Linked DNA regions of Homo sapiens. The protein of the gene in region 2 purifies or fractionates together with the protein of the main gene of each other region. This does not show direct contact. Each region holds a gene or a part of one and is shown on either strand. Other genes may lie near its edges.

The links.
Region 1: the proteins of ABCG2 (region 2) and PCSK7 fractionate together in Homo sapiens (co-fractionation; one large-scale study listed by BioGRID). This does not show direct contact.
Region 3: the proteins of ABCG2 (region 2) and ATP8A1 fractionate together in Homo sapiens (co-fractionation; one large-scale study listed by BioGRID). This does not show direct contact.

Annotation. Positions count from the first base shown.
Region 1 is NC_000011.10:117,229,274-117,233,419, reverse strand, and holds the start of PCSK7 (proprotein convertase subtilisin/kexin type 7 preproprotein), read left to right. Parts: upstream 1-1,346; 5' UTR 1,347-1,393; intron 1,394-2,951; 5' UTR 2,952-3,071; intron 3,072-3,563; 5' UTR 3,564-3,575; coding exon 3,576-4,043; intron 4,044-4,146. UniProt on the Homo sapiens protein: Serine endoprotease that processes various proproteins by cleavage at paired basic amino acids, recognizing the RXXX[KR]R consensus motif. Likely functions in the constitutive secretory pathway.
Region 2 is NC_000004.12:88,110,140-88,113,639, reverse strand, and holds part of ABCG2 (broad substrate specificity ATP-binding cassette transporter ABCG2), read left to right. Parts: intron 1-86; coding exon 87-337; intron 338-3,500.
Region 3 is NC_000004.12:42,654,306-42,658,379, reverse strand, and holds the start of ATP8A1 (phospholipid-transporting ATPase IA), read left to right. Parts: upstream 1-1,274; 5' UTR 1,275-1,506; coding exon 1,507-1,555; intron 1,556-4,074. UniProt on the Homo sapiens protein: Catalytic component of a P4-ATPase flippase complex which catalyzes the hydrolysis of ATP coupled to the transport of aminophospholipids from the outer to the inner leaflet of various membranes and ensures the maintenance of asymmetric distribution of phospholipids.

The DNA of each region.
Region 1 (4,146 bases), on a different chromosome or scaffold from region 2:
CACTGAAGAGCGCATAGGGCAGATAGGTAGATGGGGCTGTGTCAACACCTCAGTCACAGCCCACAGACCCTCTGTGCCTCAGTTTCCCTCATTATACAAAGCTCCTGGGAGAAAATGGGCCCAAACCGCCATTGCTGCTCCCTCAGGTGCAAACATCCCGTCTCCAACATAGCCCAGGGCTGGGGGGTCCTCTGCGCCCGGTGAACGAAACCCCAGGACAAGGGCCATGCATGCAACTCCGTGGCTAGAGAGCCCGTGGCGCGGGTAGGAACAGCTGGCTGGAGGGTCGAGTGTACCAAAAAGAACTCCGCAACCCGGGGCGACCACCAGCGAAGCAGGGGCGCCGGAGCCACGGGTCCTCGGGCGAGAACAGGGGACAGACGGGAAGGGGACAATGGGGGGAAGCGGCGCTGGGTGGCCTTGGCCACCCCCCACAGGGGACTGCTAGGCTGGCCGCTGGCTCGGACCAGACCCCCCTCCACCCCTTCCCCTCGGTCCCCCCACCCCGCTGCCAGCCACCCCCCCGTCCCACTTCTAGGCCGGGACCCCCGCCTCGGTTCTCACAGCACCCTCCACGCCCCCCACCCGACCCCCATGCCCGGCCCTCGCCCCGCAACCCCCACCCACGCTCGCCCCGCACACACCTCCCGCGCCGCGCCCCCGGGAGGAAAGTGGGGGAGGGACGGGACGCACCTGAGCGGGCGGAGCGGGGGGAGGGGGCGGCCGAGCCACGGGGGGAGGGGTCGAGCGCCGGCCCGCGCGCGGCACCTCCCACTTCCGGCGGCACGAGCGGAGGGGGCGAGGCTCCGGCCGCGAGAGGAGAGGCCGCGGTGGCGCCGCGCCGCCCCCGACGGCGCCCTCTGGCGGCGACAGCTGGCGCCGCCGGGGCACGGGGATGCTGCGGGAGACCCCTGAGATACAAGTGGACTCTCCCGGGGCGCGGGGAAGAAGGGAGAGCCGACTGCGAGAAGGAAGGCGACCTGGGTGGGCAGGATCCCCTCTGGGAAGATTACAGGGACAGTCGGGGCCATGGCGGTCAGAAGGAGAAGAGCAACGAGTGGCTTTTAAAGGTCGGAACCGAAATGCCCTTTACAGAGGACGCCATGAAGGAGAGCCTTCTGAAGAGGGACCATGTGGAAGATGCCCCGAGGACTCGGGGAGGCGGAGCCCGCGGGTTCAGCCCCCAGCGCCCGCACGGCCCCTGCCTGCGTAGGCCGCCCGCGGGAGCCGGACCCCGGGCGCCGGTTGCTGTGGCCCGCGGGGGTCGCCGGGCCGCAGGCGCCGCGCTGATTGGCTGCGCCGCGGGCGGAAGTGATGCTGCTGTCACTGCTCCTCCGGCTCCCGGGAAGCCGCGAGTTTCCGCAGGGAGGCGGCGGCAGCTGCGGCGGGGCCGGTGAGTTGGGAACTAGGTGTGGGGCTGGACCTGGGTGGTCAGGGGGCCCCAGAAGTGGGGGAAGCCGGCGTCTGAGGATGAGGGAGCTGCACAGAGGGTGCCTGAGGTCCTGGCGTGGGGGACCAAGGAGATGGGGCCCCAGGGCCCAGAATTCCTGGATAATGTGGGTGCTAATGAGGAGAGGGGCACATTGCACGGAGCGATCGAGGCCGACGGAGGGAGAATCGGGAAACTGACCCGGTACCCAAGCTGGCTTCTAGGAGCCGGGTGTGGAACAGCGAGGACAGTAGCTTGGGAGCAGGATCTTGGACTCCAGGCTGCCCATTCTCTTCTTCCTTGTCAATTAAGAGCTGTAAAGGGAGGCCTAGCCGTTGGGAGAGGTTGAGACCTGCTTTCAGAAGGCATTTAAGGTTCCTTTCCCAGAAGCCTGGGGGATAAAAATGCTGCTTTGCCACTAGTAGACAGAAGGAGCTCCTGCTTCTCTTTCTTCCTGACATCTGTGGTGGGATCTACTGAGTCTGAAGGAGTCTGCCTAGCGGGGCCACTGTCTGGCTAACAAGGGTTTTGTTTGTTAGTTTGTTTACTTAGTAGAGTATGCAGACTGGGGAAGACACCTAAATATCTTGGGAGAATTGAGGCTCCCGGGGGCAGGGAGGGATTGAGAGGGAATATGCCTGGAAACCTAAGAGAAAACGAGAGGAAGAAATGTAGTATGAAGATTTTTAGAGGTAAAGGAGAGGTGGCATAAGTTCTCCTTTCCAGGAAGCCTTTCAGTAAAATTCCCATTTTTCTGGAATGCTTTGAGGTAGAGCCGCTTGGGTGTGTATCTGAGTACTAAGCCCTGCCCCAGGGTGGACCCAGTGGAGAGCAAAGGCTTTTAAAGGAGCCCAGCCACCATAGGTACACACATGTCCTGCCACCCCATTTGTCTGTCCCCCAGTTCTAACTTGGCTCTTTTTTTTTTTTTTTGAGGGCTCCTGAGACCAATTCCCTGGTTCTGTCAAACCCAGGCAATTGGAGTCCCAGTCTGGAGTCTGAGTCCTCACCTTGAAGCCAGCCTCCTGAGCTCAGTACAGGAGTAGCTGCTTAGTGAGGTTCTCTCATCATTCGTTCTCTCCTGGTTGCCCGCTTGTCCTTGGTGCCTGTTCTGTTTTGTTTGCACTCTCTGGCTTTCCCCGTTTCGCCCCCGCCGCCTCCCTCCTTTCACTTTCCCTGGTATCCTTCTGGGATATACAAATCAAGAAGTTAGCTACCACCTGGACTTCTAGGACGTTATTACCTACTCTTTCAAGAGGCATTTTGGTAACTGTTTTTTGCTAGGCCTCTGGGGAACAAAATGAAAAGAGGGTGGCACGATAGCACAGGAAGTGGGTTTTTTGGGTGTTATACTGATTTGGCCTCACCGTACCAGTTCTGCTCCAGTCTATGACCGATTTTAGATCTTTGGAAATGACAATTAATGAAGTTTCTTTGGTCCCTGGTCCTGGAGTTTATCTAACCTCAGCTTGTTGCCCTGGGATTGGTGGGACATTATTTCTTCTGTTCTTGGATCCCACAGGTCTGTAGCCTTTGCTGAGTCAACACTACTCACAGTGAAAGTGATGCCTTTTCTCCATTTGCACAACATGAGTGTGACGTGGTTAGCCAGACCAGGAGCTCAACCTCATGTAGAATCCAGGTGGGCACGGGGCCCTGTTATGGGGAATTAGCCTTGAGGACAACTGGACTGAGGAGTCAGCTAGGGAAAGATTTATGTCCCCTCTAAATGTAGGGGTGAAGGGGTTGTCTCTGCTAAAGAACAGTCACGATGCAGCCAGTAGTTTGTGGAAGCGATGTGTGCTTTGAGCCCTGTGGGTGGCAACAGGGGTTGCTCGCAGTGCCTGTGAGCAACTGGACCTCCTGCTGGATTAGCTGGTGTCGTGAGGATTGGCTGTCTTGCTGTGGGAGGCCATCCGCTGGTGTTAGTGCTGGCCCACACTCCACCTGGGGGCTTATCCCTGTTGGTCAGGGATAAATGTGAACAAAAAGAGAAGATCAAATGTTTCACAATTTAAAAGGCATGGCTTAGGGACTTCCAGGGGGAACACATGGATGGCTCAGCATCTCCCTCTCAGATTCCTGCAGTTACCAGCTCTTTGATCTCTTCCATATCCTTTTTCTTTGTCTGCAGTCCACTGCTCTGATGCCGAAGGGGAGGCAGAAAGTGCCACACTTGGATGCCCCCCTGGGCCTGCCCACCTGCCTCTGGCTGGAATTAGCCGGGCTCTTCTTACTGGTTCCCTGGGTCATGGGCCTGGCAGGGACAGGTGGGCCTGATGGCCAGGGCACAGGGGGGCCGAGCTGGGCTGTGCACCTGGAAAGCCTGGAAGGTGACGGGGAGGAAGAGACTCTGGAGCAGCAGGCGGATGCCTTGGCCCAGGCAGCAGGGCTGGTGAATGCTGGACGCATCGGAGAGCTTCAGGGGCACTACCTCTTTGTCCAGCCTGCTGGGCACAGGCCGGCCCTGGAGGTGGAGGCCATCCGGCAGCAGGTGGAGGCTGTGTTGGCTGGGCATGAAGCTGTGCGCTGGCACTCAGAGCAGAGGCTGCTAAGGCGGGCCAAGCGCAGCGTCCACTTCAACGACCCCAAGTACCCGCAGCAATGGCACCTGGTGAGTCCAGTCCTGCAGTTTGCAGTTTCAGGTGGGTAGGTTCCAGTCCAGTTCTTTAATGGGCTTTTGACTATATCACTCTTCAGTCACCTCCATCCTTTGC
Region 2 (3,500 bases):
AGCATCCAAGAAAGGGTTCACAGAAAAAATGGGCTAAATTTGTTGTTATCTTGTTTGTGTTTCCTTTTTATCCACTGATTGCAAAGCCACAGAGATCATAGAGCCTTCCAAGCAGGATAAGCCACTCATAGAAAAATTAGCGGAGATTTATGTCAACTCCTCCTTCTACAAAGAGACAAAAGCTGAATTACATCAACTTTCCGGGGGTGAGAAGAAGAAGAAGATCACAGTCTTCAAGGAGATCAGCTACACCACCTCCTTCTGTCATCAACTCAGATGGGTTTCCAAGCGTTCATTCAAAAACTTGCTGGGTAATCCCCAGGCCTCTATAGCTCAGGTAACCAGCAGATTCTTTTGAAATACTCAAATGGGAACAATGTGGTTCTGTTATCATCTGCTTCAGGATATGTTTATCTTCTACCCACCCTTCCAATTATTTGTTATCTTCACTCCACCTGGGATATAGAACCAGTCAGCAGAACAAATAAAGGACAATTAAGTTTTACTTTTGGAAAGCTTCCCTTTTTTTGAGACAGAGTCTCACTCTGTTGCCCAGGCTGGAGTGTGGTGGCATGAACTCAGCTCACTGCAGCCCTGACCTCCCTGGGCTCAAGTGATCCTCACACCTCAGCCTCTTGAATAGCTGAGACTACAGGCGTGTCCCACCACGTCCAGCTAATTTTTGTGTTTTGTGTAGAGATGGGGTTTCGCTGTGTTGCCCAGGCTGGTCTTGAACTCGTGGGTTCAAGCGATTCTCCTGCCTCAGTCTCCCAGAGTGCTAGGATTACAGGTGTGAGCCACCACATCTGGCCAGGTTCTTTTTTTTAGTGGTTTCTTAGACTACCTAACTCAGAATTTTTGTTGATTTAGACAAGCTGTAATGAATAATCTGAGTAGAAAAATTTTTTTTTTGGGAAATTGTGAAAGAAGTGTCAGCCAGTTTTGGGGTTTTCTGGTAGCTGTTCACTTTTGTTCACTGATTCATTCAACTTGTTCTTATAGGGCCTGTGCTGTGCTTTAGGGATGTGAATTCAGTAGTGAACAAAATGGGCAAAAATAAAACTCTGCTCATGGAGCTAATTTTTTGAGGAAGACAGTTATGATAAATAATAAAGAAATTAAATAGATAGCATGTTAGATGGTAGAAGAAACTATGGGGAAAGTTTAAGCAGAGAAGGGGTGGAGAAAGGGGAGGAAGAGAGAGAAGTAGGGAGAAGAAGGTTGATTTGCAGTTGGAATCAGGTGATCAGGGAAACCTTCACCTACTGTCACTGAATACACCTGAAAGGGAGTATGTGCTGGCCACTCCAAGGGAAGAGCCTGTGTGCAAAGTGCTGTTCCTTGTCATTTACCTTCCTTAGACAGTTTACAGGTGAAACAAATGTAGTAAGCAAATTTGAGTTCACAGAACAAGGCTATTCATTGTTAGATTAACTTTCTGTTAATCAAAATGAGATAATGTTTCTTTGTTCCTTGGTTGGCTCTGTGATAGTTGGTGATTATTACTCCTTGTGGTTTTTGTTATTCTTTTCTTTACACATTTTTTTTTTTTTAGAGACTGGGTCTCACTCTGTCACTCATACTGGAGTGCAGTGGTGCAATCATAGCTCACTGCAACCCCAAACTCTTGGCTCAAGCGATCCTCACACTTCAGCCTCCCGAGTAGCTGTGACTACAGCCGTGCACCACAACACCTGGCTGATTTTTTAATTTTTTGTAGAAACAGGGTCTCACTATGTTGTCCTGGTCTGGATCTCCTGGGCTCAAGCGATCCTCCTGCCTTGGCCTCCCAAAGTGCTGGGATCACAGGTGTGAGCCACCATGCCTGGCCTTTTCTGTTATTCTTAACCCCTCTGTCACCCAAAACATTAGTACTCCCAGTTCATTGGTCCATTCTTCAAAGAAGTCAATTTAGCTGGTTATTTTGGGGCTGTTATTTTTATTAACAATATTGAGTTTCTGTTGAGTACTAAAAGATGGCACATTGTTGGCTCTAGTAAAATATTACTGACGTTTAAACTTGTGCATCATAATTTCTATACTTAAGTATATATAAAATATATCTAAGAGCTTGTATCCCTAGTTAAGCCATACTGCTAATTATGTATATATATGTATATATGTATAGCCACATATATGTATGTATAGCCATACTGCTAGTTAAGTATATATATAAATTTATCTAAGAGCTTGTATCCCTAGTTGAACCATATTGCTAATTTCTCCAAATGTTTTTGGTACGTATAATTTGGTGTTTCTGTCAGAACACTGGCACTTTTATATACTATCAATTAAAGGCAAAATTTTATTCTTTGAGCATAGATTTGATATCATTTGGAAATCAGTCTGGTAGGATCAACCTGGGTTACTTATTGTCAACAGTGAAATAATGTAATGAATTGCTTTTTTAGTGTGATGTATGCATTAGATTTTTCTTACTTGGAAAATAACTTGAATTATCTTGCTTCAAAAAATGGTTTATAAATGTCTTGTCCAAATCGCCTATGTGGCAATACTGGAGAGGGCATAATTAGAACACAGAGCTGTTTTTCACACACTGAGATTCTGCATGTTTTGATACTGGGCTTCCTTCCAATGCTAACACCTGGCCTAGTGCCTCTAGGTTTAGCTTCCCTGCCTCATCAGTGAACTCACTTTCACAAAAGGAATTCCAGCCATGTTCAGAGCAGTGGCAGTCTCTTAGATTAAGAATAGGACCTTGTATCTCCCTGAGCATCTGCTTAGCAGGACAAGTTTTGTTTCGATTTGTGAAAAACTGGAATATTAGCTTAGGGCAGGAGTAGGCAATATATATTTTTTTTTTTTGTAAAGGATCAGGTAGTAAATATTTTAGGCTTTGCAGATCAGGTGGTGTTTGTCTCAGGTAGTCAGCTCTACCGTTTTAGTGTGAAAGCAGCCAAGCTCATAACATGAATAAATGAACATGGCAGTATTCCAATAATAAACGAAAGGCTGGCTAGATGCAGTGGTTCCTGCCTATAACCCCAGCACTTTGGGAGACCAAGGCAGAAGGATGCTTGAGGCCAAGAGTGTGAGAACAGCTTGGGCAATAAAGCAAGACCCCCTTTTTTTTTCTGAGACAGAGTCATGCTCTGTCGCCCAGGCTGGAGTGCAGTGGTGCTGTGTCGGCTCACTGTAACCTCCGCCTCCCGGGTTCAAGCAATTCTCCTGCCTCAGCCTCCCGAGTAGCTGGGACTACGGGTGCCCGCCACCATGCCCAGCTAATTTTTGTATTTTTAGTATAGACAGGGTCGCACCATGTTGGCCAGGCTGGCTTCGAACTCCTGACCTCAGGTGGGTCCACCCGCTTCAGTCCCCCACAGTGCTGGGATTACAGATGTGAGCCACTGTGCCTGGCCAAGACCCTATCTTAAAAAAAAAGGTAACTTTCATTTTATTCCAATGAAACATTATACATTGGCACTGAAATTTGAATTTTATATAAATTTTATATTGTGAGAAATATTATTATTCTTGAC
Region 3 (4,074 bases), about 45 Mb from region 2:
GCAGGAAGCAGAAGAAATACCACAAATGGAGATAGGACGCTATTAGCAGATTTTATTTCATTTTTTCCTGAGGCTTGGAAATAATCACTTCTCTCTCAGGTCAAACCTCTCCAGCTCTCTCCCTTCAGGATGTGAAAAGATCTCAAATAAAAGGCCTCTATGTGAGGATCTCTTTCGCTGGTTGCTGGAGGAAGAGCATGAAATGAGGGAAGAAGCAAATTGCTTCTGATTTATTGTTTCTGGTTTATTCCTTTCCTGCCAGTTCAGCAGCTCGCCAGAAACAGCACAAAACCTTACATCTTAACTTGAAGGTGAAGTATTTGTTTTGACAACTTTTTAGCATAGATCTCGGTATACAAAATAAAAGGTAATGAGGCTATGATAGTCTGAAGGACATCGGCAAATTAAAATTTAACATATTTATGGATTTTATACAAAGACTCCTCTCCCCTTTGCAGATAAAACGACTGCATCCAACTTTATGCAGATTTAACTAAAAGAAAAAAAAAAAGTCTTTTGTGAACCACCTGGGCCAATACTTAGTTGGCTTAATTGCTATTTCAGTGCCTTGTCAGGCTGCAGAGCCTGAACTAGGGAGATGCACCGGGCCCACTTGCAGGCGGGGCCCAGATGCACCCAAGCCCCATGGACAAGAGCACCATGGGCACCAGGGGCCTCCCGACCTGGCAGCCTGTTGCTAGTGGGCGAGGCAGGAGGACAAGTGCGGCTCAGGCCACGAGTCGGGCTGGGCGTGCAGAGAGGTTAGAATTACACCCAGATGGCGAACAGTCAGTCGTTCCTTTCCTGCTCTGGCTGGGAGCTAAACCTTGTAGTCCCAGACCCTTTCGCCTTCGCCTGCCGGCTCAGACCCAACAGCTCTTTCCGGACGACGGGCGGCTCCACTGCGATCAAAAGCCAGGGGTAGCGGGAGGGGATTCGTGAGAATGCAGCAGCCAGAGCAGTCTTTCCTTTCTGAGCAAGATGTGAGAGAGTCCGAGTGGCCTGGAGGAGGAACCGGGTCAACCAACTCCACAGGGCGGAGCGAAAACGCTGGAGGACTAAGGAGGCTAAGAGTTGATCCCCCCTTTGAGTCGTGATACGGTCCGAAGCGGGGCGGGGCGGGGCGAAGGAGGCTCCCCCTGGCTCTCCCCGCCCCTCACCCGCCTTCCTTGCTGAGCGGCCGCGGGAGGGGGAGCGCGAGCCCCGCAGGCCCCTCCCCCGGCGCCGGCGCCCGAGCTCCGCCCCTCGCCGAGCCGCCCCTCCGCGGCTGCAGCAAGAGCTCGCCCAGCTCTGCGGGCGCCGCCACCTTCGCCGCCACCGCTGCCTTTCTCCTCCTCCTGTCGGCGTGCGGGGGCCGCGCCCGGCGGCAGCTCTGCCCTAGGTGGGCGGCGGCGCGGCCCAGGCTGCAGCTGAGCGCTCTGCGCGGCGCAGCCGGGTCTCCCGCGTGTACCACGCCGTGACAGGTGCAGAGTCCGGGCTGAGGACCCACCTGCAGCCGCCGCCGCGATGCCCACCATGCGGAGGACCGTGTCGGAGATCCGCTCGCGCGCCGAAGGTAAGGGGCCGCCGAGGCTCGGGGCTAGCCCGGGGTCGGGAAGCGAGTGTGTGTGTGAGCGTGTGTGTTTATCCTGGAAGAGACCGCATCCTACCTCTTCCCCGGCGGCAGTCCGACTGTCGCGCCCGGCCCCTAGGGGACCCTTCCCCCCGCGCTGCCCCCAGTGTACTCGCAGACCCTTTCCAGGCTCCAGTACCCTCGAATGGGTGTTCTCCGCGGGAGCCCCGAGGCGTGCTTTGCACCGCAGTGTGACCATTAGGTCCCAGTCACTGAGCTCACTCGCCCTGCCCACCTCCCTCCCCACCAGTTCGATTTCCACTCAGCAGATCCCCAGCCCGCCGCCCCTGCCTCCGGCGCCCACCGTTTTGCAACCCCCTATCTGAGCTCCCAGCGAAGCGAGTTTGCTTTTCCCCGGCTGCAGGATCCTTTGATCCGTAGTCCCTTGGCTCTCGAAGCGCGGGGAGCCTTCATCGGGGTCGGGTGCCGAGTGGGTTCCCTGCATTACAGCTTCTGCAATTCTGCCTCCTGCAGCGGAGTCCCACCGGCTCGCGTCTGAGGTTTCGTTTTTGTGTTTCCCTTTTGCCCGAAACCCTCACTTCGGCCAGCTGAGCTGACTTTTCAGCCAGGTGGAAGCTGTTTTCTTTGCTCCACCTGGGGCCAGCTCTTGAATGGCCATGGTTGTCAACACTGAGCAACAGATGCTCCGGGGTAGAAGCAAGTAAGCTTTCCGAGGGCCCAGACTCTTCATCGTCTCCGAGGAGCCCTCAACATCCTGCCTGCCATGTGGCAGGCACTCTGTAAATATTATTTGATTTTGCTCGCGTCAAAGCCAAGACTGTAAATATCCCAAGGTTTGTTTGTCCTCTCCCATAAACCTGTACTTGAATCCTGCAGAGGGTGGAATAACATGTTTTTCAGAAATCTATCTTGCCATCATCGCTGATTCCCACTCTTCCTCCCCACCTCCATCTTTTAATGTGAGACAGGTGGTGAAGTGGTTTTAGAAAAATATATAAGTTAGGAGAATTGGATTTCAGGGATGGAGACAGGCCATTTTTTCTCCTTAGGGGCTCCCTGTAAAAATAGGGTCCCTGAAATTTTCTGATTGCAGTATTTAGGAAATATTAAATGAAACTGCTGTGGGGAGAAGACGAAGCAAGATTCAAAACTGGCCTGTGTACTACATAGGAATTCGGTACATGCTGTCATTTGTAATACCCAAAAAATACTTATATAGGGCATTATAGTTTTACATACACAGTTGAATACATTATACTTTTAAAATGCACACTGTAAAAATTCATTTTTTTTACACTTCTGAGTGAAATTAGTCATAGAGATAGTGAAAGTAGAATGGTAATAGTTGGTGGTGTTCTTTTAAATAATAGCAATTGATGGGTCCTATATTGTGGGAAATAAGGGGAAGAGAAAAAGTCTGAGAGCACTGCAAAACCTGTGGCATGTGAGGGGATTACAGGGCTGCAGTATTGTTCTTGATTGGCTTGTGTATTTTCCAAAGTACTTTTACAAAGATTACTTTATGGAAACTTACAACACTCCTGGAGGTTGGTGAAGGTGGAGTGCCATCTGATAGTTGAGGAAACTGTGGCCCATATGGTTTAGTAATTTGCCCAAGGTCAAGTAACTAGTTCAGTGACACATTTGGATTAAGAGCTCTGGGAAAACAAGGACTGCTGCTTGTTTAATCTTTGTATTCCCTGTGCGTCCAGCACAGTGTCAGGGCCATAGTGGTGCTTGGTGAGTGAATGACCCTTTCCCCTGAGATTAGTTGATTCCAGTTTATTATAGCTTCAGCATGTGCTTGGGACTGTGGTGAAGACAAATAATGACTCTGTGGGGCTGGCGTTGTGGCTCATTGCCTGCTCTGCCCACACTTTTCTTTCCTAGGAAATATTTCTTTCCTAAAAAATATAGTCCTACCTTTCCTAAGGAATATTCTCCTTTGAGAGAGGCCCTGCTGCCTAGAGGGCCTTGTTCTGAACTGCAGCCTTTTTGGCCTCAGCTGATTGGACTATGGTTGGCTCCTGACCCAGGGTCAACCAATTCTTATGTGACTCAGACACTTGTAACCTTGTGGTTTGGCTCAAAAAGAGTCTCTGTGTTAATCATATCTCTCTTGAAAACATTAAAGTTAGAGATTTAGAGTAAAAGCAGAAGGGAGCAGAGGTGAATAGGCTGGTATGGGAGAGAATGGGTGGCCATAATAAGTCATGGGAATGCTGCTGATAGAAGAAAGCAGAAACTATGAGTGAGTAGAGAGATAGCAAAGAAAATGGAATGGATGGGCAGACACAGATCCTGAGAGAGGGTGGCGAGACCTTGGAGCCTGCCCTCCCGAATTTTATAGCCCTAGTTCCCAAGTAGCATTAAAATAAGCTCTTTTCCCCCCCTTGAAATGACTTGAATGGGTTTCTGTTCCCTTCATCCAGATTGGCCAGATGTATGACTGTCATGCCTGTAAGTTGTTTACAACCAAACTGGGGAGAAAGGACTTAAAG